4 linked regions of the Homo sapiens genome follow. The protein of the gene in region 3 purifies or fractionates together with the protein of the main gene of each other region. This does not show direct contact. Each region holds a gene or a part of one and is shown on either strand. Other genes may lie near its edges.

The links.
Region 1: the proteins of ENTREP3 (region 3) and HECW2 purify together in Homo sapiens (affinity purification with mass spectrometry; 4 studies listed by BioGRID and IntAct, with this or other methods). This does not show direct contact.
Region 2: the proteins of ENTREP3 (region 3) and ANKRD13D purify together in Homo sapiens (affinity purification with mass spectrometry; 3 studies listed by BioGRID and IntAct, with this or other methods). This does not show direct contact.
Region 4: the proteins of ENTREP3 (region 3) and HECW1 purify together in Homo sapiens (co-immunoprecipitation; 3 studies listed by BioGRID and IntAct, with this or other methods). This does not show direct contact.

What each region holds. Positions count from the first base shown.
Region 1 is NC_000002.12:196,590,545-196,598,058, forward strand, and holds the start of HECW2 (E3 ubiquitin-protein ligase HECW2), read right to left. Parts: upstream 3,011-7,514; 5' UTR 2,964-3,010; intron 2,440-2,963; exon of another isoform or gene 1,920-2,439; intron 1-1,919. UniProt on the Homo sapiens protein: E3 ubiquitin-protein ligase that mediates ubiquitination of TP73. Acts to stabilize TP73 and enhance activation of transcription by TP73. Involved in the regulation of mitotic metaphase/anaphase transition.
Region 2 is NC_000011.10:67,285,192-67,292,322, forward strand, and holds the start of ANKRD13D (ankyrin repeat domain-containing protein 13D), read left to right. Parts: upstream 1-4,111; 5' UTR 4,112-4,269; coding exon 4,270-4,359; intron 4,360-4,474; exon of another isoform or gene 4,475-4,886; coding exon 4,887-5,022; intron 5,023-5,116; exon of another isoform or gene 5,117-5,130; coding exon 5,131-5,255; intron 5,256-6,284; coding exon 6,285-6,330; intron 6,331-6,411; coding exon 6,412-6,555; intron 6,556-6,799; coding exon 6,800-6,989; intron 6,990-7,131. Other genes in the region: GRK2 (beta-adrenergic receptor kinase 1), read left to right, coding at 95-259. UniProt on the Homo sapiens protein: Ubiquitin-binding protein that specifically recognizes and binds 'Lys-63'-linked ubiquitin. Does not bind 'Lys-48'-linked ubiquitin.
Region 3 is NC_000001.11:155,252,464-155,259,829, forward strand, and holds the start of ENTREP3 (protein ENTREP3), read right to left. Parts: upstream 3,021-7,366; 5' UTR 2,415-3,020; coding exon 2,190-2,414; intron 1,994-2,189; coding exon 1,937-1,993; intron 1,732-1,936; coding exon 1,621-1,731; intron 1,516-1,620; coding exon 1,396-1,515; intron 1,270-1,395; coding exon 1,162-1,269; intron 1-1,161. Other genes in the region: SCAMP3 (secretory carrier-associated membrane protein 3), read right to left, coding at 3,810-3,956, 4,211-4,328, 4,822-4,923, 5,035-5,194, 6,363-6,491.
Region 4 is NC_000007.14:43,444,627-43,451,646, reverse strand, and holds part of HECW1 (E3 ubiquitin-protein ligase HECW1), read right to left. Parts: coding exon 6,077-7,020; intron 820-6,076; coding exon 718-819; intron 1-717. UniProt on the Homo sapiens protein: E3 ubiquitin-protein ligase that mediates ubiquitination and subsequent degradation of DVL1. Also targets the mutant SOD1 protein involved in familial amyotrophic lateral sclerosis (FALS).

The sequences.
Region 1 (7,514 bases), on a different chromosome or scaffold from region 3:
GCCTCTGGTTTCTCTTAAAGGAACACTTCACAACAGAGAAAGCCACCTGGTTAGAGGTTACACAGATACCAACCATATAGACTTAACAAGCATTTTGAATGCAAGATCATTTCATTGATGTGTAGGCACATATTAAAACTGGGAAGATCCCAAAAGCCACCTCTCCTGCAAAACACATTCATCTAGGAGAAAACGCCAAAGCATCTGTCCTCAACTACAGGTAACAACCTTGGTTTCTTTGCCTTTGGCTGAAATCAGTGTTGCAAAAGCCTTTTAAAAGAGTAAGAAAATATAGGTTTTTCTCCCAAGATCACATTGCCCAAGTGAAACAGAACCAGTGCTTACTTTTATTTTTTGTCTCCTGTTCAGAGGGGTCAAACATTGCTCATAATCTTCATTAAATTTAGTCCTGTGGCTGGCAAATGTTAATTTACTGGAATATTTTCCTTCACATTCATAAAGAGGGAAAACTAGCTTTGTGATCTGGTTGCAATCTACACAACACATAGATAATCCACAACAGTGGTAGGCGCAGAAAAGCTCCAGCTGGTTTATCTCAAATGTTCAGAATGATTTTGATTTCTTTACCGACACCACAGCCATTCATAAAGATTCATTGCCAAATGTTGCCCAATACCGTGATAGAGGCGATGGTGAAGCGAATGTCTTAGACTGGGAAATCATCATGGTGCCCAAACCTCAGAGTCTGCGGCCAAATGGTGGGGATTTGGAAATCACCTGTCACGGAGATGGTGAAGGAAACTGGATTCAAACTAATGAAGACTAAAGTCTTTCCAGCCAGAAGACGGTTTGAGTCCAAGGGGCCATTTATATACAAGAGCTAAGAAAGGTGCAACTGATTTTCCCCCAGAAGCAGCACGATTATTTTTAAGTTCAAAGACATTTTTGTTAATAAACTGCTTCACACAACCACATCGAAGCCAAAATGTGCCAATGAAATAATCAAAACAAATAGCTCAATTGGGACTTTTTGAATGTTCAACAAAAAGAAAAATTAAAGCTGGTTAGACTGCTGGATAGTAACGTTACAGTGTCTCCTTTAAGAGATCAAAATGTCTTTGCCACCCTCCACCCCACCCTACCCCACCTCTAATAGTGAAGTGGATAATTTCTGAAGAATACAATGACCCTTTATGCCTGGCTTCTCTAGTCTGCTAGGGATGCCATCTGTCTCCCACGCTATATAAACAATCCCCGCAGGAATCTTCTGATGACCAAACAGATTAGCAAACTCCAGATTTTCACGCCATTAATAATATCCCCATCCAGATTAGGCCTTTTATTTTAATAACTCCAAAGATAAAGTCAATAACTGATCTTTCTTTCTTTGTAGATAATGTGTGTGTCATTTTAAAGATAACCTCTTGGAACATACAGCCATCTGTTGGGAAGAGAAAGAAAAAAAGCTCTCTCAAAGCAACAGAAGAAATGAACCCTCGAGGGAATAGGAGAAATAGTAAAAAGAAAATCATATTTATAAGACAAACACATGGAGAGCTCTACTAATTACACTAAAATATTCTTCTTCTAAATGACAAACTATAGAACACTACTCCAGAAAAGACAAGTTTCACACTTTCACAAAGGTATATATATACGAAAACAGTTTGCGTGAGTCTAGGACAGTGAAAGCAGAAATCATAACCCAAAAGCTAAAGGCCCCCGAAGTTTGCATGCTGTCCACCTCTATCTGTAATGATCACAAATGTTTTCCTTCCTGAAGTTTAATATCGATTGAACCCTTGTAACTCTAATTGTGAGCTCTCTGTACTGACTCCAAAGACTTCTAACTCTAAAAGAAATGTGCCTGTAAAGATGTTCTCTAAATTAATAATAATAAACGACGAAAAGCACCCGAGCGCTGCTAATAGTGAAGACAAGGCATGAGAGAGTCAGACCTCTGCAGTCTCGCGTCCTCGGAAACGTCTACGTCTAAATCTGCAGCCCCAGTTTGCTCCAGGCCCCAAGCTCCAGCAGAGGATGTTCACGGCACATTCCCAACCAAAAAGGAAATGAAGCGTCCTCTCCCTCAACTGATGCTCAAATAGACCCCAAAGTCCCAGTTTCCCTGGAGAACCAAACCATCCAACACATCCTGGGCAGCGGAAACCGAAATGGCAAATGAATGACCGCGCCGGGGCGCAAGGGAGGAAAAACAAAGCCACCTCCCGCCGTCCGCTACCTGCGGCGAGGGCCGCGCGCTCACCTGGGCTTTGCGCCCGTCGCCACAAGCTGCGGGTGGGGACCCGGCCGCGGGGCGGGAGGGCGCCCCCAAAGTCGCCCGGACCCGCGGCCCCGGCGCCCTGCGGCCGGTCCGTGCGCGCCGAGGAGAAAGCAGGCGGCCGGGGGCGCCGCCGCGCGTTGCATGCAGCTCACGGCTGCTGCGGCCGCTGCCACGGAGCCGAGAGTCTCTGCGCTGCAGTCCCCGACCCCGAGACCGCGAGAAGCGCCCGGAGAGACGCGGCGCAGGGGCAGAGCGCGCTCGGCGCGCCCCTCAGCGGCTCTTCCCGCCGCCCTCCGCAGCGGGCTGGGTCTCGGCTCGCCTTTGTGCTGGCATCTTCCTAGCTCCCAGCGACACCCAGAGCTCTCGAGGCGGCTCCGCGCCGCCACCCACCCCCGGGTTACGCCACGGCCCCCGCGCGACCCGCCGATTGTGTCGAGTCAGCAGCGGCAGCGGGGACGCGCGAAGCCATGGCTCCCGCCCGCGCTCGGGAGGGCGCCGGGGGTCCTGCGCCTCCGGGAGGTTTGTGGCCGAGCGCGGCGCGGCCCCGAGCGGCCCCGCAGCGCCCGGCTCCCCGCCGCTCGCTCTCCAGGCGCCGACCCGCCTGCGTCGCCACCCTCTCGCCGCTCCCTGCCGCCACCTTCCTCCCGCCCGGGTGCCGGGCGTCCGCTCCAGCCGCGGTGCCCCGGTCCGCGGAGAGCGAAGAGTCCGGCCTCCTCACCTCCAGCCGCGCCGGCGCCCTTCCCGCTAGACGCTTCGGCGGCATCTGCCCGCACCGCCCTGCGGGACGCTGGGCTGGGAGCTGGCGGCACGTCGGGGACCGGTGGAAGGGAGGCGGGGGCAGAGGACAGGAGGGACAGCCAGACCTTGGCCAGCGGGACCTCCCTGAGGAAGGTGCGGAAGAACGGGGCGGGTGCGGCTGGGCGGAGGACGAGTCCCGAGGCTGCGGCGGAGCCTGAGTTGCTCTCCTTCTGCGAAGTCGAAGGACAGGAGGATTCCTAGAGGTGTCGCGGAGGGTGGAGGAGACCCTCTGAGGTCGTGCAGACAACACTGTTCCTCAACCCCACCAGAAAGCTGAATAGGGGAGTGTCATGCCTCGGTTTCCCCAACTGCAAGGGCAAGACGGTAATACTCATGTCGCACACACAGGGTGTGGTCACGATGAAAAAATGGATTATTGAAAGCGTTCCCAGATACTTTGCCTAAAGAGGGCACTAAAATTTAAAATTACTGTATTAATACTTTCGGCTTTCTGTTTACTTCTATAGCATCTTCATCAACCAGTCCCACGTAGGAGAAAAAGTAAAAATGCTAAAGTGTAAATATATTGTGTCCCTCCCCACCCACCCTTGCATCTGTCCAGATTTAGGGAAGATTTATTCAATTTTACAATTTAACTATATCCATATGGAGTAAGTCCCCAAATAATGGATAGCCATTCCTTTGGGACTTTTGAGTGTGTGCTCAATATTATCCATTTCTCCGCCTTTTCTGGTAACAGCAGTTCATTATTCCTATGGGAACTGCCCTTCCCCCTCACCCACAATGAGTCTTTGTGGCTCCAGGGTACTGACACCTCCCACCCTCAACCCCCAGAACTAGCCAGTCATCTTCCGGACCGCAGTGATCGGTTCTGGGTTGGGCATGTTGATCCAGGAACTCGGCCTAGGGCTTTGGATGTATTACTGCAGAAAAATAAGCTCTTTAAACTAGGATAACTAAATTGGAAGGATATAAGCCTACGGTAACAAGGACCAACAGTGCATGCCAATGAAGCCAACTTTGAGGGAAGAAAAGCTGCTGGTGAGAGGGTGATGTCCCACCCTCTCAGGAACCTCAGGAGGTAGATGTGTCTGCAGTGAACTCTACCCTTGAAGCCAATAAATCCTCTCTCTTTTATTTCAAGTCAGTGTCAGCTGTGTTTTGTCACATGTCTCAGAGGAGCCCTGACTTCTTAGTCCCCTGGATCTATCAGCCCAGGCATCACTGTTAGGATCCTCCACAGAATCAAAGAGCCCCACCCCACAAAAGGCCCAATTCCAGTTCTTGCTGGAAGAACAGGGATCCTAGAGGTTTGTTCCCACATGATGTTCTCCTTCACAACTTACTCAAATCCAGCAACCCCACACCTGCAATCCTTAGCTTCTTTGTGTTGATTAACCACTATGTTACATTCTAGTCAAAATGGGCCAGGTGCAGTGGCTCACACCTGTAATCATGCCTGAGGCAGGAGGATCTCTTGAAGCCAGGAGTTTAAGACCAATCTGGGCAACATAGTGAGACCCCACTAACACAGGAACAGAAAACCAAACACTGCGTTTTCTCACTCATAAGTGGGAGCTGAACAATGAGAACACATGAACACAGGGAGGAGAACATCACATCAGGGAGGAGGGGCCTATCGGGGGTTGTGGGGCTAGGGGAGGGATCTCATTAGGAGAAATACCTAATGTAGATGATGGGTTGATGGGTGCAGCAAACCACCATGGCACGTGTATACCTATGTAACAAACCTCCACGTTCTGCACATATATCCCAGAACTTAAAGTATAATACATTAAATAAAGAAAGAAATAAAAATAAAAATAGCCAGGCATGGTGGCCTGAACCTGTAATCGCAGTTACTCTGGAGGCTGAGGCAGGAAGATCAGTTGAGCCCAGGATTTCAAGACTGCAATGAGCTGTGATTGCACCACTGCACTCCAGCTTGAAGACAGAGCAAGACCCTGTCACCTTGTCAAAAAAGAAGAGGAAGAGGAAGAAGAAGGAGGAGGAGGAGGAAAAAGAAAGAAAGAAAAGAAAAACAGAAAAAGAAAGAAAAGAAAAGAGGAGGAAGGGAGGAAGGGAGGAAAGGAGGGAGAAAGAAGAACCCTAAAAATGAATAGAGGCAAAGTGAATCACTATTGCTGCCCTAGGTCTTAAAAAACATTTTTCTCTCACTTTAAAAGCAGCCCCTACTACCTTTAAAACTTTCTACATATCGACCATTAAAACCGAGACTAAGGCATCAAAGAACATTAATAGCAAAGTCATCCTAAAAATCTCAAACTTGCAAAGGTGTGTAAAGATTAGGTAGGTTCTTTCACACTGCACTCCCCGTTCGTCATCACCACCACTCTCCTTCACAAGATCTCTGACCGGGTCTCACTTATCCTCTCCTGGAGCCATTCCCTTAAAGAGAACTCAGTACTTTACAAGCTGGTCAATTCTGCATTGAAACTGGCCTGACATTAGGAAGTGATCCCTTATATTGAGTTGAAATATTTCTTCCACCTGAGAGTACTCCAAGCACTGAAGACAAACTTGTGAACCACTTGAATTGTCTCTTTTCCAAGATCTTTGCATGACCCATAAGTCATGCAGGACACATGGCAATGTGTCCTGACCCTTCATCATCCTAGGTTACTTCCTTTCTACAGATGTGCCAAGGTTTGTGACTGCTCCTTCTAAAGCATATGGCCAAAGCTAAACCCAAAGGCAGATTCCAAGAAACTTATACTCCAGCCCTCTTCCAACAACACAGAAGGAGCCTGAGAGACATGTTCATGTGGTCTTATATTTTTATAAAAGCTTCCAAAGTAAGATATTTTAATCTCAAGCGATTTGCAGTGGACTGAATGTTTGTGCTCCCCCAAATTCATGTGTTGAAATCCTAACCCCTAATGTGATGGTATTAGGAGGTGGGGCCTTTGGGAGGTGATGGAATAAATGCCCTTATAAAAGAAACCCAAGAGAGCTCTCTCACCCTCTTTCTGCCTCTTGAGGATACAAAGAAAAGATGGCAGTCTGCAACTGGAAGAGGGCCTTCCCACCCACATCACAACCACACTGGCACCCTGATCTCATTCTTCTGGCGTCCAGAACTGTGAAAAATAAATTTCTGTTGTTCATAAGCCACCCAGTCTAGGATGCTTTGTTATTGCAGCTTGAATTAAGACAAGACTGCTGTCCCTTTTCATTCTAACTTCCGTGTTGTCCTAATTCCCCTTGTTCCGAAAGAAGTGGAGTGATTGTGGACATTTGTGGGGATCTGGCTAAAGGGAAGTTGAATTGGTTAAGTGGAATACATTTATGTGGTCTGTGGGCATTAAAGTTGTGACAGTGATGTCTATTTTGACTGTGCAAAGACAGTCACTTGGGCCCTTCAGTGTTGTGACACAAAGGTAAAGGGATGGAAATTATACCACCAAGTATTAATAACTGCATACTTCAGCACCCAGCACAGAAGTATATGGGTAACGGGGTAAATGATGTTTGAAATGTATGTACGGATTCAGAACTAGAATATGGAAAACCCTCCCACATCTTATTGTTTATATGTGAAATAAATTTAATAGTGATTTTCCTAAATTTTGAAACAATCCTAAAAATATGTTACTTTCCCAATAATGCATTGTGGACTGAAAAGAAACTCCTCTAAACTATCAGTAATAAAAACAAATTTTAGTCAACTTTACTAGTGAAAACACTGGAATATCTATTAACTCTATAGAACATAATGTCACAAAATCATTTTCATATGAAGAATAAATCAAAGAGTATAAAGCCAAAATACGTAGGAAAGACATATCACAGAGGTATGTCAGGCAGTTAATTAATTTAAAGATCGTGGTATTTTTCTGTATTTGGTGATCTAATACTTGTAAGGTTGTTTTGTTGTTGTTGTTGTTGTTGCTGTTTGGTTTTTTTTTTTTGAGATGGAGTGTCACTGTCGCCTAGGCTGGGGTGCAGTGGCGCGGTCTTGGCTCACTGCAACCTCCGCCTCCCAGGTTCAAGCAGTTCTCCTGCCTTAGCCTCCAGAGTAGGTGGGATTACAGGAACCCACCATCACATCTGGCTAATTTCTGTATTTTTAGTAGAGACGGGGTTCAACCATGTTGGCCAGGCTGGTCTCAAACTCCTGACCTCAAGTGATTCACCGGCCTCGGCTTCCCAAAGTGCTGGGATTACAGGCGTGAGTCACCATGCCCAGCCTTATAAGATTTTTTGAATGTGCGAATTGTTGTGATTTTTTTAATTCTGGATATATATTCTTTTCAGTACCTCATTTTGTATGTATAATGTGTATTTTTTTTTTCTTAAAAAGTGTCTTGAATTGGGAGTTCAAGACCAGTCTGGCCAACATGGTGAAAACTGTCTCTACTAAAAATACGAAAAATCAGCTGGGTGTGGTGGCAGGCACCTGTAATCCCAGGTACTCAGGAGGCTGAGGCAGGAGAATTGCTTGAACCTGGGAGGCAGAGGTTGCCGTGAGCCGAGATCATGCCATTGC
Region 2 (7,131 bases), on a different chromosome or scaffold from region 3:
AGTGGGGGCTGAGCCAGGGATGGGAGGGCCGAGGGGCCAGGCCAGGCAGGCTGGGGAGAGCCCCAGCTGACAGAGCTGGGCTTGGCATGTGCAGAGCGACCCTGAGCTGGTGCAGTGGAAGAAGGAGCTGCGCGACGCCTACCGCGAGGCCCAGCAGCTGGTGCAGCGGGTGCCCAAGATGAAGAACAAGCCGCGCTCGCCCGTGGTGGAGCTGAGCAAGGTGCCGCTGGTCCAGCGCGGCAGTGCCAACGGCCTCTGACCCGCCCACCCGCCTTTTATAAACCTCTAATTTATTTTGTCGAATTTTTATTATTTGTTTTCCCGCCAAGCGGAAAAGGTTTTATTTTGTAATTATTGTGATTTCCCGTGGCCCCAGCCTGGCCCAGCTCCCCCGGGAGGGGCCCGCTTGCCTCGGCTCCTGCTGCACCAACCCAGCCGCTGCCCGGCGCCCTCTGTCCTGACTTCAGGGGCTGCCCGCTCCCAGTGTCTTCCTGTGGGGGAAGAGCACAGCCCTCCCGCCCCTTCCCCGAGGGATGATGCCACACCAAGCTGTGCCACCCTGGGCTCTGTGGGCTGCACTCTGTGCCCATGGGCACTGCTGGGTGGCCCATCCCCCCTCACCAGGGGCAGGCACAGCACAGGGATCCGACTTGAATTTTCCCACTGCACCCCCTCCTGCTGCAGAGGGGCAGGCCCTGCACTGTCCTGCTCCACAGTGTTGGCGAGAGGAGGGGCCCGTTGTCTCCCTGGCCCTCAAGGCCTCCCACAGTGACTCGGGCTCCTGTGCCCTTATTCAGGAAAAGCCTCTGTGTCACTGGCTGCCTCCACTCCCACTTCCCTGACACTGCGGGGCTTGGCTGAGAGAGTGGCATTGGCAGCAGGTGCTGCTACCCTCCCTGCTGTCCCCTCTTGCCCCAACCCCCAGCACCCGGGCTCAGGGACCACAGCAAGGCACCTGCAGGTTGGGCCATACTGGCCTCGCCTGGCCTGAGGTCTCGCTGATGCTGGGCTGGGTGCGACCCCATCTGCCCAGGACGGGGCCGGCCAGGTGGGCGGGCAGCACAGCAAGGAGGCTGGCTGGGGCCTATCAGTGTGCCCCCCATCCTGGCCCATCAGTGTACCCCCGCCCAGGCTGGCCAGCCCCACAGCCCACGTCCTGTCAGTGCCGCCGCCTCGCCCACCGCATGCCCCCTCGTGCCAGTCGCGCTGCCTGTGTGGTGTCGCGCCTTCTCCCCCCCGGGGCTGGGTTGGCGCACCCTCCCCTCCCGTCTACTCATTCCCCGGGGCGTTTCTTTGCCGATTTTTGAATGTGATTTTAAAGAGTGAAAAATGAGACTATGCGTTTTTATAAAAAATGGTGCCTGATTCGGCTGTCTCAGACTCTTTTTGTACCTGGTGACCCCTTTTCAGCTTCTGCTGGGCTGGGGCCTGATGGGGAGGGTCTCGGTGGTACCAGGTCTCCTCCACCGCCATGGCTTCCAAGGTGGTCTGCTCGGGCCCAGGCCATCTTCCAGGTGGGGTGAGGCAGTGGGTCCCACTTCCCCTCCTACCCCTCCCAGCTGACAGTCCTCTCCACCTAGTGGCTGTCCAGTGCCCATTCCTCACCTTTTCCCGGGGAGGAGAGAGCAGCTTCTGCCACTTCCCAGGTAAGCAGGAGGAGGTGCCAACAGTGTTAGGCCTGGCACAGTGTCTGGGCTGACTGGGACCGTCTCAGGCCCACAGAACACCCCTGCACAGCAGGCACCAAGCTGAGGCCCCTCCCCAGAAACAGTCACAAGGCACCTCTTCCCTCTAGGTCACACCGCAGCCTCTGGGCCCTTGGCCATCTCTGGCTTCAGCCTCCTCTCTGGCCTCACTGCACAGCCCTAGTAGGGGTCCCTGAGGCCTGAGGGGAACCCCAGCACTAGGCCTCTCCTCTACCCAGAGGCTTCTGGTCAACTTCCCTTTCCCCAGGTCCCTGCCCTAGCCCCGCGGGTGACTAAACAGATACATGTTGCTGCCCACTCCACACAGGGCTTTGCTGGGCATGGCTGGGGCCCATGGCCAAAGCACAGCATGCCAGGCAGAGAAGGGAGGCAGGCAGCTGGGCAGGGTACTCAGGGCTGAATACAAGAGTCAGGGGCAATGGCCTTTGAGCCAGGCCTCCAGCATTGGTGTGGGAAGGAGGGAGGACATTTCTGAGGCAGGGAAGAGCCAGGGACTCATGAGTGGCCCAGGCTGGCCGGAGGACTATAGGAAGGAGCCATGCCTGGAGGCACTGAATGCCAGGCTTAACCTATCCCGGAGCCAGGTGTGTGCTCAGGGCCTGCAGAATGAAGATACAAACGACATGGAGTCCAGACCTGCCATGCTCAGGGAGCCCTTGAAGGTGCGGAACAGGGCTGAGAGTGGTGAGAGCTGGCTCTAAAGTGATTGCCTGGTTACTGAGTACAGGATGTGGGGAGGGAGGTGAAGGACAGGAGGCAGGGAGACAAACCTCCGCAGTGGGAGAGGAAGAGATGAAAAGAGGCCAGACGGGAAGAACGTGGTCCAGCAGAAACAGGCTGGACTTGGGGCTGAGTGAGGCGGGAGTCTGGGGAAGAGGGTAGGTGTGGTTGGGTTGGCTTCGGACATACTGATGGGATAGCATGGGATCCCTGGGCACAGAGATGTCCTGGAGTAAGCTGAAATGTGGACCTGGGGGTGGCATCAGGGTGACAATGGGAACGGACAGTCTCTCTCCCAGGGATGTGGGGGTCAGGGAGAGAGAGGAGGCCGTGGAAGAGGGTTGAGAAGGCACTGTCATGGAATTAAGTGCCAGTGGGGAGCTGTGTTCAAGATGGCAGAAATCAGGAGAGGCTGGAACCAAGAAAGTCCTGTCGGGGTTGAGTTTGGAGAGGGCTCAGGGAAGGGACCGCCTCTGAGAAAAGGGGTGGCCAGGGAGGGCTGCAGTAGTGGTGAGCAGGTGAGCTCTGGGCATTCAGAAGCCTTCGGGCTGCTACCAACCCCAGGACCTCACAGATTGACACCATAGCGTGGGGTGGCAAAGTGACCCCAGATGGCACAGGCGCCATGTGACTACAGGGAGAAGGCAGGGTAAAAATGGCAATCAGGCCTTCCAGCCCAGAGTCTCAGAACTGAGGACGCCCTACAGCAGGAAGTGATGCTCAAGCTAGCTGGCCCTCCTCAATCATGTTCCACGTAGGGAAAGGGAGAATAGAGGGTCAGCCTTGGCCACCTAGCAAAACCAGGGCCCCAGACCCCAGGCTGGGCCTCCAGTAATCAAGGGCCGGAACTGAGCTGACGGAGGCCTGCACCCTAGTTCCGGTGTGGGTGGAGGGGCCGGCCCTGATTTCGAAACTCGCCTTCCTCTCCTGACGCTGGCAGCCAACCGCAGCCTCTGCAAAAGGGACTCGTGCGGCGGGCGAAGGCAGCCGTTCGCCGCGGGCGGTCCTCCGCCGGGACGGCTCTGCCGCTGCCTGGGCCTGCGCCCCTCTCTCCCCGAACTCCTATCCCTGACTTCAGGGCCCCGGGGGCCGCCTCCCCGCATCGCTGGGCCTGCAGACACCGGCCAGGTCCCAGGGGAAGGTGCTTCCCGCTCAGCCGGCAAGCACTTAGTGGCGTCTGCTCGTTGCTCGTCTCCAGGCCGGGTGAGGGGAGCCGGGGCGCCCCACTTCACCCGCACACCCCAGCAGAGTCGGTGACCGCGGGACCTGGGGTAGGAAGACCGGGGCGAGCAAGGGGATCCGCGGGGGAAACGCAGGCATCACGGCTGCAGCAGGACCGCGGCCCGCCGCGCACGCGCGTGCACTACCGAGGGGCCCAGTGCCCGCCCCCTCCGGCCCCGCCTTCCTCTTCCGGACCCGGCTCCGGGGGTCTGCGCAGGGCTCGGGGCGCCTCCTGCGGGCCGCGGGCGGAGCTGTAACCGGGCACCGCCCTCCAGGCCGCCCCAGCGGACCCGGGCCCGACCGAGGTCGGGGCGCAGACCCAAGGCCGGGCATCTCCTCGGGCGCTCGCGGTTGCTCTGCCGCGCGCTGGCCTGGCCGCGGTTGCCATGGTTGCGGGGGGACGGGGGCGCGCGCGAAGCCCCGCCCCGGCCCGGCGCAGCCCCGCCCGCTCCGCCGCCCGCCCCGCCCTCCCTGCCGCCCGCGCTGCCGCCGCCGCCGCCGCCGCCGCTACTGCTGCGGGGGCCGCGGGGGGCGCAGCTGGGGCGCGGCTCGGAGGGGAGGCTAGGGGGCCGTGCCAGGCCCGAAGCCGAGGCGGGGCCGGGATGCGGCGCTGAGGCCCAGCATGGCCGGCCCGGGCCCCACCTTCCCGCTGCACCGGCTCGTCTGGGCGAACCGGCATCGCGAACTGGAGGCCGCACTGCACAGCCACCAGGTGAGGCCCCGCTGGGGCACCCGGCCCTTCCCCCGGGTCCCCCACCCAAGGCTGTGGCCTCCGTCCTGGAGCCCCCCCCCCCCCCCCGCCCGCTCAGCTCCGCAGCCACATCCTGGGCCTTCCTCCCCTGCACGATCCCAAGCCCAGGTCACCGGCCCCTCGCGCCTGAGCCTCTGGCCTCCTCTCCCCTGCGCTGGGCCTTGCCCTGCTCGCCCGAACTCGCTTCCGCATCCTTGCTGACCCAAGCTGAGAACAAGAACTCTGGTCCTGGTCCCCAGGTTCCGCCAAACTCCTGACAACCTGCAGCTCTGCCTGACCAGGCCCCGCCGCCAGACCCCGGCTCTGCCCCTGCCTTCCCTCCTGCCCCCTCCTCTCCCCTGCCAGGACACGCAGGCCACCCTCTGCCATCTCCCTGGTCAGTCCGCCGTCCTTATTTCCCACAGCGATTCCCAACCCTGCTCGCCCTGGCAGCCTCCCTGCCTTGCCCTCTTCTCTCCTGCCCTTTGTGAGTGTCCCGTCTCCCCCAGCACGACATTGAACAGGAGGACCCCCGCGGGCGGACCCCACTGGAGCTGGCCGTGTCTCTGGGAAACCTGGAGTCTGTGAGAGTGCTCCTTCGACACAATGCCAACGTGGGCAAAGAGAACCGCCAGGGCTGGGCAGGTACTGCAGAGGACAAGGGGCTCCCCCTGAGGCTGGCAGGCGGGGGGCAGTGAGCAGCCAGGCCTGGGGTCATCTGGAGGGCTCCCCTCAGCAGCCTGGTGCCCGCAGTCCTGCAGGAGGCAGTCAGCACTGGAGACCCCGAGATGGTGCAGCTGGTGCTCCAGTATCGGGACTACCAGAGGGCCACGCAGAGGCTGGCGGGCATTCCGGAACTGCTCAACAAACTTCGCCAGGTACAGCAGGGCACAGTTATGGAGGTGGGGTACCATGGCAGGGCACCACCCTGGTTACTGTGCCAGGCCTGGCCTTGGAAAGGCACCCAGTTTGTGCAGTGTGCCTCCTGCCACCAGCAAGGAGGTCTGTCTATCTTGACCCCAGCCCAGGGTCACGTAGGAAAGAGAGACGGCCAGGCTCACGTGGGAGAGACTGGACCCTTTGGAAGAGAAGCCTTGCCAGCTTTGGGCCTCCTGAAGAATGCAGATTACCTGGAGCAGGGACTTCAGGTTGACTCGGTGGATTATGGCCTGAAACCCTGGAATACTTGCTACTACGCACCCTTCTGGAAGCACACGGAGGGGCCTGGCTGGCAGAGCATACTATCTCATACCCCCTACCCCAGGAGCAGGCTCGGAGGGAGCCACTGTGCCCCCTTTACAGAGTAGGACTCTGAGACCCAGTGGAAACAAAGGCTCCCCCAGGGCTCTGCACAGGCTCATGGCCAGGTTGAGGCTGGCCCTCCACCTCCAGGTGCTTACAGCCTCATTGTCTGAAGACCACTGTAGTGCCCCACTTGGCCCACCCTCTCCAGGGCAGAGTGGTTGGGCGTAGCTGAGCCATAGCAGTGCGTCAAGACTTGATGAAGGGCCAGGCGTTGTGGCTTACTCCTGTAATCCCAGCGCTTTCTGAGGCCAAAGTGGGCGGATCACTTGAGCCCAGGAGGTGGAGACCAGCCTGGGCAACATGGTGAAAGCCGTCTCTACAAAAAGTACAAAAATTAGCTGGGAGTGGTGGCACACACCTGTGGTCCCAGCTACTCGGGAGGCTGAGGTGGAAGAATCACCTGAGCCCAGGGAGGCAGAGGTTGCAGTGAGCCGAGATTGCACCACTACACTCCAGCCTGGGTGACAGAGCAAGTCTCAAAAAAAAAAAAAAAAAAAAAAAAGACCTGATGAAGGGCTGGGCTGGCTGTGGACAAGGGGCTCCCAGGCCTGCTGGAGCCAGCAGCAGGCAGGGCGCTGACAAGCAGCTCTGGTTTCTCTTAGGCCCCCGATTTCTACGTTGAGATGAAGTGGGAGTTCACCAGCTGGGGTGAGTGGGGACCTCTGGGCTCCCAGGGATTTGGGGTGGGGCCTTTGGAAAGACCCCCAGTGACCCCTGTGCACCCTGCAGTGCCCCTTGTGTCTAAGATGTGCCCAAGCGATGTGTACCGCGTGTGGAAGCGGGGTGAGAGCCTGCGAGTAGACACCAGTCTCCTGGGCTTCGAGCACATGACCTGGCAGCGGGGCCGGAGGAGCTTCATCTTCAAGGGCCAGGGTGAGCTCTGGACAAACTCATTGCAGCTCCTCGGCCCTTGGGTTTCCTGCGGCTTGGGAGGACGGTGCTGCCTTTTCTCTCCACTTTCCAGATGTGGAAGCTGAGGTTGGGGATGGAGGGGCATCCAGGGGCCAAGACTGACCCACTTGGCAGCAGGTGGCTGAGGGTACATGATCGCCCTCTCTGCACTGCTGGCGCCCAGCACTGATTTGCGCCCCCTCTGTCCACCCCTACCGGCCGGCAGAGGCAGGAGCCCTGGTGATGGAAGTGGACCATGACCGGCAGGTGGTGCATGTGGAGACACTGGGGCTCACTCTGCAGGAGCCCGAAACACTGCTGGCCGCCATGCGGCCCAGCGAGGAGCATGTGGCCAGTCGCCTCACCTCTCCTATCGTCTCCACCCACCTGGACACTCGTAATGTGGCCTTTGAGAGGTCGGTCGGGTCCTGGCACACCGTGGGTGGGATGGGGACGGATAGCAAGAGCCACCATTAATGAGGGCAGGGCGATCCTTGAAGATCCTGGTTCAGGCCTCTGGGCTCACTCACAAGGGGCTGCTCAGGGGCAGGTGGGTTG
Region 3 (7,366 bases):
GGTTCAAGCGATTCTCCAGCCTCAGTCTTCCGAGTAGCTGGGATTACAGGCACCCGCCACCACACCCGGATAATTTTTGTATTTTTAGTAGAGATAGGGTTTCGCCATGTTGGCCAGGCTGGTGTCAAACTCCTGATATCTGGTGATCCTCCTGCCTTGGCCTCCCAAAGTGCTGGGATTACAGGCATGAGCCACGGAGCCCAGCCTAATTTTTGTAATTTTGTGTGTATATATATATATATATATATATATATATATATTTTTTTTTTTTTTTTTTTTTTTTTTGAGACGGAGTCTTGCTCTTGTCGCCCAGGCTGGAATGCAGTGGCACCATCTCAGCTCACTGCAGCCTCTGTCTCCCCGGTTCAAGCAATTTTCCTGCCTCAGACTCCCAAGTAGCTGGGATTACAGGCACCCGCCACCACACTTGGCTAATTTTTGTATTTCGTTTGTTTGTTTTTTGAGATGGAGTCTTGCTCTGTCGCCCAGGCTGGAGTGCAGTGGCACTATCTCAGCTCACTGCAAGCTCTGCCTCCCAGGTTCATGCCATTCTCCTGCCTCAGCCTCCCGAGTAGCTGGGACCACAGGCGCCCGCCACCACGCCTGGCTAATTTTTTGTATGTTTAGTAGAGATGGGGTTTCACCATGTTAGCCAGGATAGTCTCGATCTCCTGATCTCAGGTGATCTGCCCTCCTCAGCCTCCCAAAGTGCTGGGATTATAGGCACGAGCCACTGCGCCCGGCCCGATTTTTGTATTTTTAATAGAGACAGGGTTTCGCCATGTTGGCCAGGTGGGTCTTGAACTCCTGGCCTCAGGTGATCCGCCTGCCTGGGCCTCTCAAAGTGCTGGGATTACAGGAATGAGCCACCGTGCCCAGCATAGGACCTTCTTGACTCTACCCCACCATCCAGTCCCATTCTCTAAAGCACCCTCTCCTGGTCCCAGACCAGCATCACATACTTAACTCACTCCCTGCCATCTCCCCTTCTCATCCTCCCCACTAAACATCCATTCCTCCAATAGATGAGGATAATAGATAACCCATAGCCCCTGGTGCTCAAAAGCCAGATCTGTAGCCATTGTTCCCTCAGGCAAGTCTCAGCACACACACCCCTGCCCCCACCATACCTGCGTGCCCTGGCCCCTGCTCCCTTCTCACCGTATGCACGAGGTCCAGGGAGAAGATTTGGATGCAGCAGACAATAGCAGAGAGTGTACAGATTATAGCGGCACAAATGGTGAGCCCACAGACGCTGAAGAGCAGGTTCTGGGGAAGGGAAAGGAGGAGAGGAGTCAGGAGACGGCTAAGTTCCACACATTATGGGCCTGTGAGTACCCCAGCAGGGGAGGCAAGAGTGAGAACCAGGAGGATGTTTGCAGGGTGCAAGCTCACCTTGAGGGCCCCTCGGGCTTCATCACAGGTGGAGTTAGGGGCAACTTTCAGTTCCTGCCCCGACTCTGGACAGGGCCGGAGGAGGGGAACAGAGGGACAGCACACACAGACCTTTCCTTCCTGAGTGGAGCAGGGAGGGTGAGGCAGCCTGAGTCAGGACAAACTGAGGTGTCCTGCACACCTCCCCCAGCCAGTTCTTTCCAGCTCTCCCTCCTCAAATCTCACCAGAGAGCACTGTTGGAAGTCTCGGGCCAGTTGAGCATTCTTACAGGAGAGAACAGAGCCAGCCATGCTAAGCATGACACAGAGCACCGAAAGCAAGGAGAAGAAGGAGATCTGGGGAAAACAGGGTGCAGACTCAGGGCTGGGACCCTCATGAGTACTCCTCTGCCACGGACAGAGTCCCCCTCCTTCACAGACACTTCGTGCCCACCCGGCTGGCACCAACTGGGGAGCCAGTTCCCTTCTTGAGGACATAAATGGGCTTCCCCTTGCGTGCTGGGCACCTGCCTCCCAGTGGGCACTGGACCCTGGCACCTACCACTAGAGTGAATGGCCGCTTCCAGGACACAATGCCAACCACCCCGGAGAACGCCAGCTGGGGACAGAGTGGGCACAGGCTCAGCCTGGCAGGGGAGGCTCCTGAGTGAGCCCCTCACCACAGGATGCACCCAGCCCTGTAAGGAGGCAGAGGACCAGGAGAGGGAGGAGAGGCAAGCATGTGGACTTGCAGCTGGTGTGGAGGGTGGGGCCCGAGGAGCCTCCCCCACCCAACAACTGTGCACCCAACTCACCGAGAACCCAGCCCAAGACGGGCAGGACCTCTTGATGCTCTCGGTGGTGGTGACGGAAGAGGCCACCATGCTGAAGGTGACCACCAGGATGCCCAGGAGCACTTGGACCAGCCCCAGCGTAAGCAGGGCCTGCAGCCAGGGTCGGTGGAGGCGGAGGTGGGTAAGGCCCCTGGTGCTGGGCCGGCTGGTCAGCGAGCGGCTGGAGTCACTAGGCGAGGGCATCATGCCTGCTGCCCGGTTGCCTGCGCCTCGCTCGGCCCTCCCTGGCACTTGGGAGCATCTCAGAGGCGCCCAAGGCCCCGTCCTTTCTCCTCTCCACCCCACTCGCTCTAGAGCCCACCCCCTGGCTGGGTCCCCTGGGGCATGGCCGAGGGACGCCAGCTGTGGGGGGGGCCAAGCGAGGGGCGTCACGGAGGGACCGCGGAGTGCTCCCTCCCCACCACGGGCACTGGACGGGCACCGTGCCCGGGGCGACGATGAGGACGCGGGGGCACCGGCTCATCGCATCTCCCTAGGGAAGAGGGGCACCGAGAAGGGCCGGTCCAGGAGTGAGGAGGGGGCGGCGGCCTGGAGCCCAGGGAGGGGTGGGGAGGGTAAAAGCGGGAAGGATGGAAATAAGTCTAGAGAAGAGGGGAGGGGTCGGCGTGGGGTGACTCTAGAGGCGCGGTCGGTGTGCCCTCAGGGCGTCCAGTAGGATCCGGGGCCGCCTGGTGGGGAGAGGCCGCGGCGCCGCTGTCTCCTGTGTCGCCTGTCCCGCTCCCCTCCCCACCACGCTCCGCTCCCCGAGCTCCGGCTGCCGCAGGTCGGGGACTAGAGAAGGGGGATGGGAATGGGGATGGTGCGGGAAGGAGGGGCATGGCGGCGAGGGCCGGCGCGGTGCACCCCGGGAGTTGTAGTTCGGGACTGAGACCCTGTCGGGGTTGGGGGATCCCGCGGCAGGGCGAGGCAGTCGGATAAGCGCTCCTCCAGTCCCTGCCTCGCTCTGGACCCTGGCTAGGCTGCTAGTGATCCTTTGGGCCTCCACTTGAGCCCCATCCAGCTTTTCAGGCTCCAGGCCCGCGTATTCCTTGGCGTTCCCGGCAGAGGCGGTGGCTCTTCCCCGTCATTAATGGAGAGGGGTGGGGAGCAGGGCTCCCTGGCGTCTCCGGGTTTCGCGTTTCCGTGGACTTCCCACCTCCTTCCTGCGCCAGCCACTCGGGCTCCACCGCCCCGCCCCTCATATCTCCCAGTTTACACTAAAGCCGGGTCCGACCTTCCCACCTCACTCCACACTCTCCTTTCTCTTTCATAAGGCCTAATTCCCAATGAAGATTCAGGAAACGGGGATGTCAGTTCCAGTTCCACTTTCTTTTTATTTAAATAACCGAAGCAACAGCCGTGGCACAGCAGAGGGAAGCTGGGTTGGGGCGTGTGAGAGGTGGCAGCAGTGTGGCCTGATGGGGGGACTAGGTCACAGTGAACTCCCCACACGCCTGTCAGGTTCAGCAGTCATGGCCATAGGATTGGGAGCACTACGGAGGAGCCATCAGTTAGTGATGTCTCTCCAAGTCCCAGAGACCTTAGGGACGGGAGCTAAGTCAGCTCCCTCAAGTAGCAGGGCCAGGGCATCCCAGTCAGGGGTCACGGGGCCCGGAAGGCATTTTCAGCAGCCCCAGCGGCTGCATTGGCAGCTGCGGTTCGCACCGCAGGGTTGGAGAAGACACCAGCAGCAAATTCTTGCTGGGCCTTCTGAAAGCTGGCACCTGTGCGGCGGTATAAGGAGTGGATCTGCAAGTAGAGGACAAAGACATTACCGCCCATTCCAGCCACTGGTTCCCCACCCCAGCCTAACAGCATCACTACCACTCAGCAGCCTGCTGCCCAGCACACACACTCACACACAGAAACACACACCCCAGAGGTCCATTAGCTGAGAACAACCCAGCAGCCTGACCTGTGCCAGTTGCTCCTGAATGTTCCACCCACGCCCCTGGGGACCCATGATCTCACCATCCCGGCCCCACCTTCGACACAGCCCTCACCCGTTTCAGCATGACAATTCCTAGCACAGCAATGCCAGTGAAGAGCAGGGCGACCAGCAGCATGAGCACGGATACTGCTGTGTTGCCCTTCGGCACCACCAGAGCAGAGATCCAGCCACTGTAAAGGGAAGGATGTACCAGTGAAGAGGGGCTCCTCAGCTTCTCCACTGGTTATGTCACCAGCATCCCCTGTTCCTACCCTTCCCATCAGCAGTGGCTCCCTGTCAATCGAGCAGCATTCCAAGCACCACAATCCCAAACTGTATCTAATCTCTTCATAGTTTAATTCCAGTTTCTGAACCATTAGCCCTGAGCTCTCCAAGCTCTTCCAGGCACTCATCTGGGGATTCTTCTTCCTCCTTTCAACCATGGTTCTATGCCTCCTCCAGGAAGCCACCTTAGATTGGCCAAATGCAGCATTCTTCCCTTCAATCTATATGTGTCAAGAGTGCTGTCTGCGCTCTATCCTGGAAGTATGTCTTGTATCTCATTAAACTAGTACCTCCCAAGGATTAAAACCACATTTCCTTTTTCTGAACAACTCCTATCCCAGCACCCAGTGCTGGCTGGATCTAGAGGGAAAGGTGAGGGTGGATAACAGCCTCACAAACCTGAATCCCCAACCTGGGATACCAATGGCCTGGAGGACAAAGAGCACATCCTGGACGAAGAAAATGAAGAAGAAAACGAAGAAATTGAATGAACTGTCACTCCTACAAAGAGGAAAAAAATGGGGAGGGTGGGAGAAGAATTAGAGCTGAAGGATGGGCAGACGTGGGGCCCATCCCAGGTCTCCATCACTCTCCCACCACTAACACACTTACCGGAAAGCCTTATACATGGGGCGGTACCAGCAGACAAAGGAGCAGGGAGTGAAAAGGAGGACCCAGAGGATAGAAAGCCCAAAGCCTGCGCCATTGTTGGTTTCCACACAGAAGCTGGCCAGGCAGGCGAGGAAGTTCAGGAGAAGAGCCAGCGTGCTGCCTAAGGGGCAGAGGGACAGGATGAGGAGCCCTTCTGGACTGCAATGAAGGCTCCTTCCCATCTATGCTCATCCTATAATATTCACCAAACATGGCAGAGTAAGGAAATGAAGGCAGCTGCTGCCTTCATGGAATCCTCAACAGGGGAGATGGAGAAAGCAAATGTCAATAATGTGTGATCCCCTTGCAAAGACATTTTTTTTTTTGAGACGGAGTCTGGCTCTGTCGCGCAGGCTGGAGTGCAGTGGCGCAATCTCAGCTTACTGCAAGCTCCGCCTCCCCGGTTCACGCCATTCTCCTGCCTCAGCCTCCAGAGTAGCTGGGACTACAGGCGCCCGCCACCACGCCCAGCTAATTTTTTTTTTTCTTTTTTTTTTTTTGAGATGGAATCTCGCTCTGTCGCCCAGGCTGGAGTGCAGTGGCAGGATCTCGGCTCACTGCAAGCTCTGCCTCCTGGGTTCACGCCCATTCTCCTACCTCAGCCTCCTAAGTAGCTGGGACTACAGGCACCCGCCACCACGCCCGGCTAATTTTTTGTATTTGTAGTAGAGACGGGGTTTCACCGTGTTAGCCAGGATGGTCTTGATCTCCTAACCTCATGTTCTGCCCACCTGGGCCTCCCAAAGTGCTGGGATTACAGGTGTGAGCCACCGTGCCCGGCCTTTTTTTTTTTTTTTTTTTTTTTTTTTTTTTTTTTGAGATGGAGTTTTGCTCTTGTTGCCCAGGCTGGAGTGCAATGGCATGATCTTGGCTCATTGCAACCTCCACTTCCCGGGTTCAAGTGATTCTCCTGCTTCAGCCTCCTGAGTAGCTAGGATTACAGGCATGTGCCACCACGCCCAGGTAATTTTGTATTTTTAGTAGAGATGGGGTTTCTCCATGTTGATCAGGCTAGTCTCAAACTTCTGACCTCAGGTTATCCACCCACCTCAGCTTCCCAAAGTGCTGGGATTACAGGCGTATACCACTGCACCCAGCCCAAAGACATCTAAAGAATTCAAAATATATTCCTGCATATGGACAATAAAAAGTGGGGAGAGGGCAAGAACATTTGCTAGCAGGCTGGTGAGTTCTAAATAGAGGTGAAGTGTTTGGTTCTTGGTGAGCGGACCCCAGGGCAGTTAAGAGATCTACCTGTAACTTCCTCCAAAAGGCTTCTCACTACTCACACATCCAGAGGTAGTACATGGTGGATACAGTCTTCTGAAATTCTTGGGGGATCTCCATGGAGATGTCCTGGAAAAAGCAGGGCTGAACTGGACAAAAAGAAGGTAGAGGGGGCCAATTGTTCTGTCGAGCTGTAAGGCACAAAAAAACAGGTGGACCCCAGAAGTAAAACAGAGACCAACAAAGGAATCACTCCCCCTTCTCTCCATCCCTGGATCCTCTCTTTTTTTTTTTTTTTTTTTTTTGAGATAGGGTCTCTGTTGTTCAGGCTGGAAGGTAGTGGTATGATCATGGTTCACTGTAGCCTCAACCTCCTGGGCTCAAGCAACCCTCCCACCTCAGCTTTTTTTTTTTTTTTTTTTTCTCCTGAGATAGAGTTTCGCTCTTGTTGCCCAGGTTGGAGTGCAGTGGTGTGATCTTGGCTCAGTGCAATCTCCGCCTCCCGGGTTCAAGTAATTCTCCTGCCTCAGTCTCCTGAGTAGCTGGGATTATGGGCACATGCCACCACGCCCAGCTAATTTTTGTATTTTTAGTAGAGACAGGGTTTCACCATGTTGGCTGGTCCTGAACTCCTGACCTCAGGTGATCCACCCGCCTTGGCCTCCCAGAGTGCTGGGATTACAGGCATGAGCCCCGGCGCCTGGCCGTCCACCTCAGCTTCTTGAGGAGCTAGGACTACAGACAGGTACCATCATGCCCTGCTAATTTTTTTCATTAATGTTTTGGAGGCAGGATCTCACTATGTTGTCCAGGTTGGTCTCTAACTCCTGAGCTCAAGCAACCTGCCTGCCTCGGCCTCCCAAAGTGTTGGAATTACAGGCGTGAGGCACCATACCCAGCCCTGGATCCTCTCTTTTATCTCCAATTTGGGGTCCAAGGAGACAAGTGAGAGTGGAAAAATTAATACTGTTTATTATTATTTAAAACATCTAAGCACTGTACCAAGTACTTCACATATATTTTGTTTAACCTTCACAACAACCCTGTCAAACGGATGCAAACGTGG
Region 4 (7,020 bases), on a different chromosome or scaffold from region 3:
ATCTAGGTCAAATCTTTCATTGAGCAGATGGAGACATTTAAACTTTATTTTTTAAATTTTACAAATGAGAAAACTAAGTCCCTGAGAGATTAAATGAATTTCCCAAGTTCAGATGACTAGTTAGATAATTATTAATTACCCACTACAGTTACCAGGAGAAACTGACATTGAATTCTATCTTAAAGATGATATTTTGCCTGGCAACCCCTAAGAACTGCAGAAGAAATTTGAAGCTATTCCCTATGGATGGAAGTTATAGTAAGGAAAGTACAAGTTCATGTGCCCAGATGGGTTGAAGTTGTTTTAACATATGGAGATGCTTGTGACGTAACAGATCCAATGGAGAACAATAGGATTATTCTATCTTGAACTGCAAATTTTAAATATAAAATGTAAAATTTGGGACTTAAAGGTCATGAACAGTTTGCAAAGACTAGTCAAGTCTAACAGAGAAATGCTCTCCATTTCAGAAGTTGAGAGGCACTGAAAACACTGTGTTATCTCTTCAAGATCACATGGTGAAACTATTAGTCAAAAAAACAAACTAAAAACCCCCAAAAAACCACCAGTTTTTAGAGCAGGTGTCATATTGGTCTTTGTTAACACTGTAAGGCACGGAGTCGGGAAAGACTTTAGATGTTTACACACAAATTCATACTGACCTGCTTAGACTTGATAGGAAGAGTTAAGACACAGATTTTAAAAACTAAAGCTTACTTGGTGGAAGAGGCTCATCGATTGTTGGGTAGTGATGATGTTCAGGCCTCAGGGAAGGAAGCTGGCTTACTGGCTGGGAATTATGGAGTATAGGACATTCACCTACGGACAAGATAGTCAATACATTCAGATTCATTCACTGCCGTGGCAACATCATCAAAAAAGCATGACTGTAAAACTAAGCACTACAAGAAACAACCCCAAAGAGTGGGAAATCCATTTGTGTGTGTGTGTCAGTTTGCTACATTCACAGTCATTCGTGAGGGGGGAAATATTTTTTTAAAAAAGAAGAAAATCAAAACACTTCATAACTAATGATCTGCGCCACACAGTCCAATATGTAGGATTTGAGTCTGATTCTGTAATGACCCGAATTTCCTGAATCAGAAAGTGGCACCAGAAAGGAACACAAGAGAAAATTAGCAGAGCCTGATTTTAGCCCAGTGGAGGAAATAGGCCTGTTTGAGGGAAATGCAGCGTTTTATAAGGTTCCACAAAAGTTCCTTGGGCTTATGCAAAATGACACCTCCTCACTTGGATAGGTTTCATCACAGGGCTGCCGAAAGGCTGTTTTTCAGATTTTTGAGGGGAATGAACTCTTAGATGGTACCAAGACAGGTCAAGGAGCTGGCGAGCCAAGAAAGTAAATTCCTGTAGTAGGAAAGCTGGAGGTTGGGGGGTTGGGGAGGGGAGCCAAGGGGCTGAGGGATCTCAGGACTGTCCAGATTATTTTGAGGAGAAATCAGACAAGCCAGGGTGCTCCGGAAAGAGGAAAGGACAAGAGACAAAGGAAGTAGATAAAAAGCAGAAAGACGGCGACAGGAAAGCTCAAAACACAGAAATGGGAAAGAAGGAGGAAGAAAGACAAACATGGAGAAAGTTTAGAAATAAACATTATATCCACAGGATGCATGCCTCAGATTATTAAAAGAAAACCTACAACAGACATAGCTTATACTGTTCTCAGTTCGGACTTATAATGAACTGAACGATGTTCTGAAGTGGTGTCCTCAGGCATGTAGAGCAGCCATGCAGAAGGCAGGCCTGCAGCACCAGCTGCTTGGGTCACATAATCAGAGGCCAGTGCTCTTGATCTTTGCAGAGTGAGAAGGGCCCGGGACAAAGGATGGCCCTTTTTTCAGATGGTTCCTCCTGCCTCACACCATGCTGGTTTTCTTGCAAAAGCCTTTAAGGGCCAGAGGGCAAAGGTCAGGCCTTTTCCTTCTTCTGTCCTCTGCTGATGCAAATAGCAAGTGTTCCATTATCCCTTGGGTCAAAAAGGAGAGAGACTGAAAAATGGTGGTCAAATGGTTGTAGGATCTCAAATGCTGAATATTTCCTAGAATATCCACACATGGAAAGGATGGTTATTTCTTCTCACTCTAGTTCTACGGAACTGATCAAAAATAAAAATAAATTAATTAGGAAGAAAGGTGGGTTTAATTTTGTGATTTAATTCCTAGAGCTCACTGGCAAACAGAAGGAGAGATATATTCAGGAACAAAGGGTCCTTTTAAATGTTAAATATAGAACATTATTTGTTGAGCAAATTCTGCTATGTTACTCAAATCCTCTGGGTCCTTGGAGATGCTAATGGAAAACAAGGAAGGTTCCCCTCATGCCGGCACCCAGTTCATTGTGGACAGACTGCTGTTCCAAAGATGGGCTCTGTGTTTAAGTGGATACCACACTCATGTTTGTTTGTATACATGTTTAGTGTCAGAAATTAAACAAAACCATGGTATAGTTGTTATGTCATCAGCTGCTGCATTTTTAACTTAGTTTCTTTAAAATCAACAATAGACTTACCTCTTGAAATTAATGCAACCAATCAGGTTAATTACTCCTCCAAGCTAGTGGAAATACAACATTGTTGACTGCCTGGGGTTAATGCAGCTGATCCCACCTGCTTGTGAACCCCAAGCAAATGCAATGATGTGACCAACATGTCTCAGCCGACTGAATGGATGGAGGCACTGAAGAAGCAAGCAGTTCTATTCTGCACAAGGACAGGGTTCCACATCATCACCCTTGCCTCAAACACAAAGCAAGTGTTGAAACCCGCCAGAACCTCCCAGAAAGAGATCTATTCCTCAGCTAAAAGCAAGCAACGTCGTTTTAAATTCCCTTCTATTTATAAATAATATAACCTAATTGTAGAGAAAGATAGGTTGCCTTGCATATTATTTGAAGCAAAGTGATTTATACCTAATAATGTGAAAATTTCCCTTGAATTATAAAGTACAGGAAATGCAAATTCAAAGGATTGTTTTAGATGCTTTATACAACATAATATAAACAGTTACCCTCACTGCTTGTCTGCCTGGAAGAACCCTCACTTGGTGGGAAGCAGAGTGCTTTTGTAGTATCATCTCATTAAATTTTCCCAACAACACTTTGAGGGAGATTCTGTAATTATACCCATTTTGCACATGAGGAAACTGAGGCACAGAACAGCTAGGTAACTTGGTGAGGAAGTGGGAGGAGTGAATATAAATCCAGGAGGCCTGACTCCAGGGCCTGAGCTCATAACAATGACATTATGTTACTCTTTTCATTTATCTGCAGAAGGTCTTTCAAGAACTATTTTAAATTAAACTTTTAAAAAGGAGGTATTTATAGAGGGAAATAAAGCAAAAAGTATGAAAAGAATACTAGCCTGTATAGTTGTCAGTTCAGACTTAGAACAGTGTTCCTCTATAAATTGTTGCAGCCTTATCTATGTGGGCACGTGGACAACAAATCCACCTGGGTTAATCTAATGCAGTTTTTTTTTCTCTCTCTCTTTTTTTTTGAGACAGAGTTCTGCTCTTGTTGCCCAGTTGGGAGTGCAATGGCACGATCTCAGCTCACTGCAACCTCTGCCTCCTGGGTTCAAGTGATTCTCCTGCCTCAGCCTCCCAAGTAGCTGAGATTACAGGTGCCCGCCACCGTGCCCAGCTAATATTTTGTATTTTTTTTTTTTTAGTAGAGACAGGGTTTCACCCTGTTGGCCAGGCTGGTCTTGAACTCCTGACCTCAGGCAATCCACCCACCTCGGCCTCCCAAAGTGCTGGGATTACAGGCGTGAGCCCACACACCCAGCCGTCTAATGCAGTTTCTACAGTAAAGGAATTTGCAATCTTAGAAGTCAAGGCGAAGGAGCAATAGGGATTTTTATGGAAGCAGAGGTCACCCACACAATCACGTATCAGGCAGGTCATGTTAAAGCCCTGCTTTCTTGAAGCATCTGCTGTTGTGAAGCCTGGTGGCAAGTGAAGGACAGTCCCACAATGCAGACACGGTTAGCCTGGGGACTCACTGCTGAGGCGGGGAAGGATGGCTGGGAAGAAGTCACATGCCAGCGTGTGCATGGCCTTCAGCAGATCAAGAGACCCCTCGGGAATCTTTTTATTTCCCCTTGTGATCGCCATAGTGAAGCATGTAGGTGCTTCTTAACCTTTTCTGAGTTTACACTCTGCAGAGTTCAGGAACTTAGATATTTCTTTAGAAACTGCCAGTGCCAATTCAGAGATGTCCACTGTGACCCTGAAACACTTCCTGCTCTTCCACCTGCTAGACTGTTGGCCTCTAAAGGGCAAGGATGTGACTTTTTTGTTTGTAAAACATGATCTTATATAAATTTACATTGAGCCAAGTTTCAATTGACCATGTGTAGATTATCTCCCAACATGGGGGCCAAAAAACTGTGCACTAAAACAGGGTTGTATGGCTCTGAGCTAAGAAAAGTGTCAGTACACTTTTTAATACAAAAAAAAAAAGCTTTTTAGTGAGAACAGTTATTTAGCTTTTTACCTCTTGACCCACAAAGCCTAAAGTATTTACTATCTGGCTCTTCACAGGAAAAATCTACAGACCTCTGTAACCCAACATCCCTGCCAGCTCCTATGTGTGCCTTTTATGTGGGAATCCCCCAATCTCCTTTTGTTGTATTATTTTAATTATGCTGTAATTATCGAGTAATGTCCATACATCACCTGATGCCACTCCATCTTCCTGCGCCCAGTGCATTACATCTGGCCTAGAATAAAGGAAGTCCTCGAAACATCCTTGTGAAAGAAAGGCATTTCCCATTCCCTTCTACTCACAGGAGGGATTTTCCATCCCGCTCCTTGTGGGTACCTTTCCATGCTGTCTGTTTTACCTTTCTGCCTGTGTTTCTTTTTCTCTACCAATTTCCTTGCGTTTCTCATTATTGCATGTGCCACCTTCTCTCACTCTTTTTCTGAAATGTAGAAGCGGGCATTATTGAATACTTAAAATTATTTTTTTTAATGCTCACTTTAGCTCCTGTTAAAAAAAAAATTTGTAGGCACCAGGGGTTTGTTTAGGTGCTAAGAATTCAAACATAAAGAAACACAACTCTGGCCCTTGATGAGCTTACAATCTAGAGAAAATATCCCCGCCTTTTGTTGGAGGCTAATTTCAACAGCAGAACAGCAAAATAGCAGAGGCTATGTTTTTCTCTTTTAAAACAACTGAATTATTTCATATTATTATGTGACTTTTCAATTTTTTTTCCCAGTCATACCACTGTCACTTGACTGGAAGACAGTTTCCACTCCTGGATAAGGAAATGCAAATTAATTTCACATATAATTCCACAGGCATGACTAAGAAAGAACATCTTTGGTTAAAACACAGAATACGTTTTAAAACTAATGGTGGCAGCTTTTGGATTTGATTCTTATTGGAAACAAAGTCATTTATACACAATCATGTTATTTTTCCCTTCCATTAGCCAAAATAGCCAACAACAACAACAACAACAACAAAACAAAACCAACAGTAATAACAAGAATTGAGTGGACATAAATAATGACAAATATATGTAGGCTAGACATATCTATATGTACGTACATGGGCTAGTTGAATTCTAAAACAGAGGTAAAATCTGTTCTTCAACTAATATTAACATCTATTGCTAATCTTCCATGTGCTTTGAAAGTCAGCAGATATTTACACATTATCCATTTAATGTAGATAGATTTTTCCCATGTATATCATTTGATACTAGTCTTGGGGCTCTGGCTGCTGTTAAGACTAGGATAACATGTACACTAACCAGTTCTGGTGATTAGTTAAAACAAACATAGAAGCACACATACAAGTGCACGCTCACATCCAACCAGTCGTAATTCCTGGTGTGTATCTGAGACATTGTGGGGTGTCAGCTACTCACAGTCATCTATGCTCATACACAGATACACATGCACACATGTATATACAAGACAGGCATACATTGCCCCAGCAACCCCGTTTGACACCGATCCCCCGCCCTTCTTGTTTTTAAACTGTTGGTGACACCTTTGTCCCCCTGATGGTCCTATTCTCACTCTGATCAGGTTTGAGGTCTAACCTTCTCTCCGATTGCTTGGACCTGCCACGGGGGATTCCAGACCTTCCGGGCTTCTTTCCACGTGCCCGCTAGGGGCGGCCAGCTCGTCTTGCCACGGCCCAGCGCCGTTCGTGGACTCCGGGTCCAGCTCAGGGCTCTGCATGGAGTCGGGTACCGACTCGAACGCGCTGTTCTCCTCCTCCTCGTCGTCTTGCGAGGAGAAGACCGTGCTCTCGGAGATCTTGGCGCTGTCCACGGAGGAGAAGCGCGTGTGGCTGGCGAACCTGTTGCCGTTGTAGCAGGAGGGGCTGTAGCACGAGGCGCTGTAGCACGAGCTGCTGTAGCAGGACGTGCTGTAGCACGAGGAGCTGTAGCACGAGGGGCTGCAGCAGGACGCGTCACAGCCCTCGCAACTGTGGTCCCCGCCTTGCCTGGGGCTGGAGTCGCTCTCGCTCCCGGTGCTGGGGTGCGTGTCGCCATCCTGGGCCGCGCCATTGGCCAGGCTGGGGAAGTGGCCCCCGGAGTGGCCAGGGTGCGCCGTGCCTGGAGTAGCCCCCTCGGGCTCTTCTCTGTCCTCTTCCAGGGCAGACGGGTCAGCGGCCACCGTGTCCACCTCGCTGAGCCCATCCTTCTCCGAGGAGTCCTTGAGGGTGGACTCCTCCTCCGCGCCGTCCTCCTCCTCTGCCGCGCTGCCGCCCTGGGCGGAGGGCATGCTGTGCAGCAGGGTGTGGATGCGGATGTAGTGTGTCCGCGGGGTCTCGGGGTCCCCGCAGGCTGACGCGATCACCGTCTCCAGCTCGGACACAGGCAAGGAGCAGGGCCTGCTTTTTCTCTTCACCGAGGCCCGCAGCTGCAGCCTGCCCTCTCCCTGCTCCAGGGTAGACACATCTCCCTCCTCCTCCTGCTCCTTCTCCTCTTCTTCCCTTCCAGCCCGGCTCTGGGTCGTTGCTTCCTCCTCCAAGGGC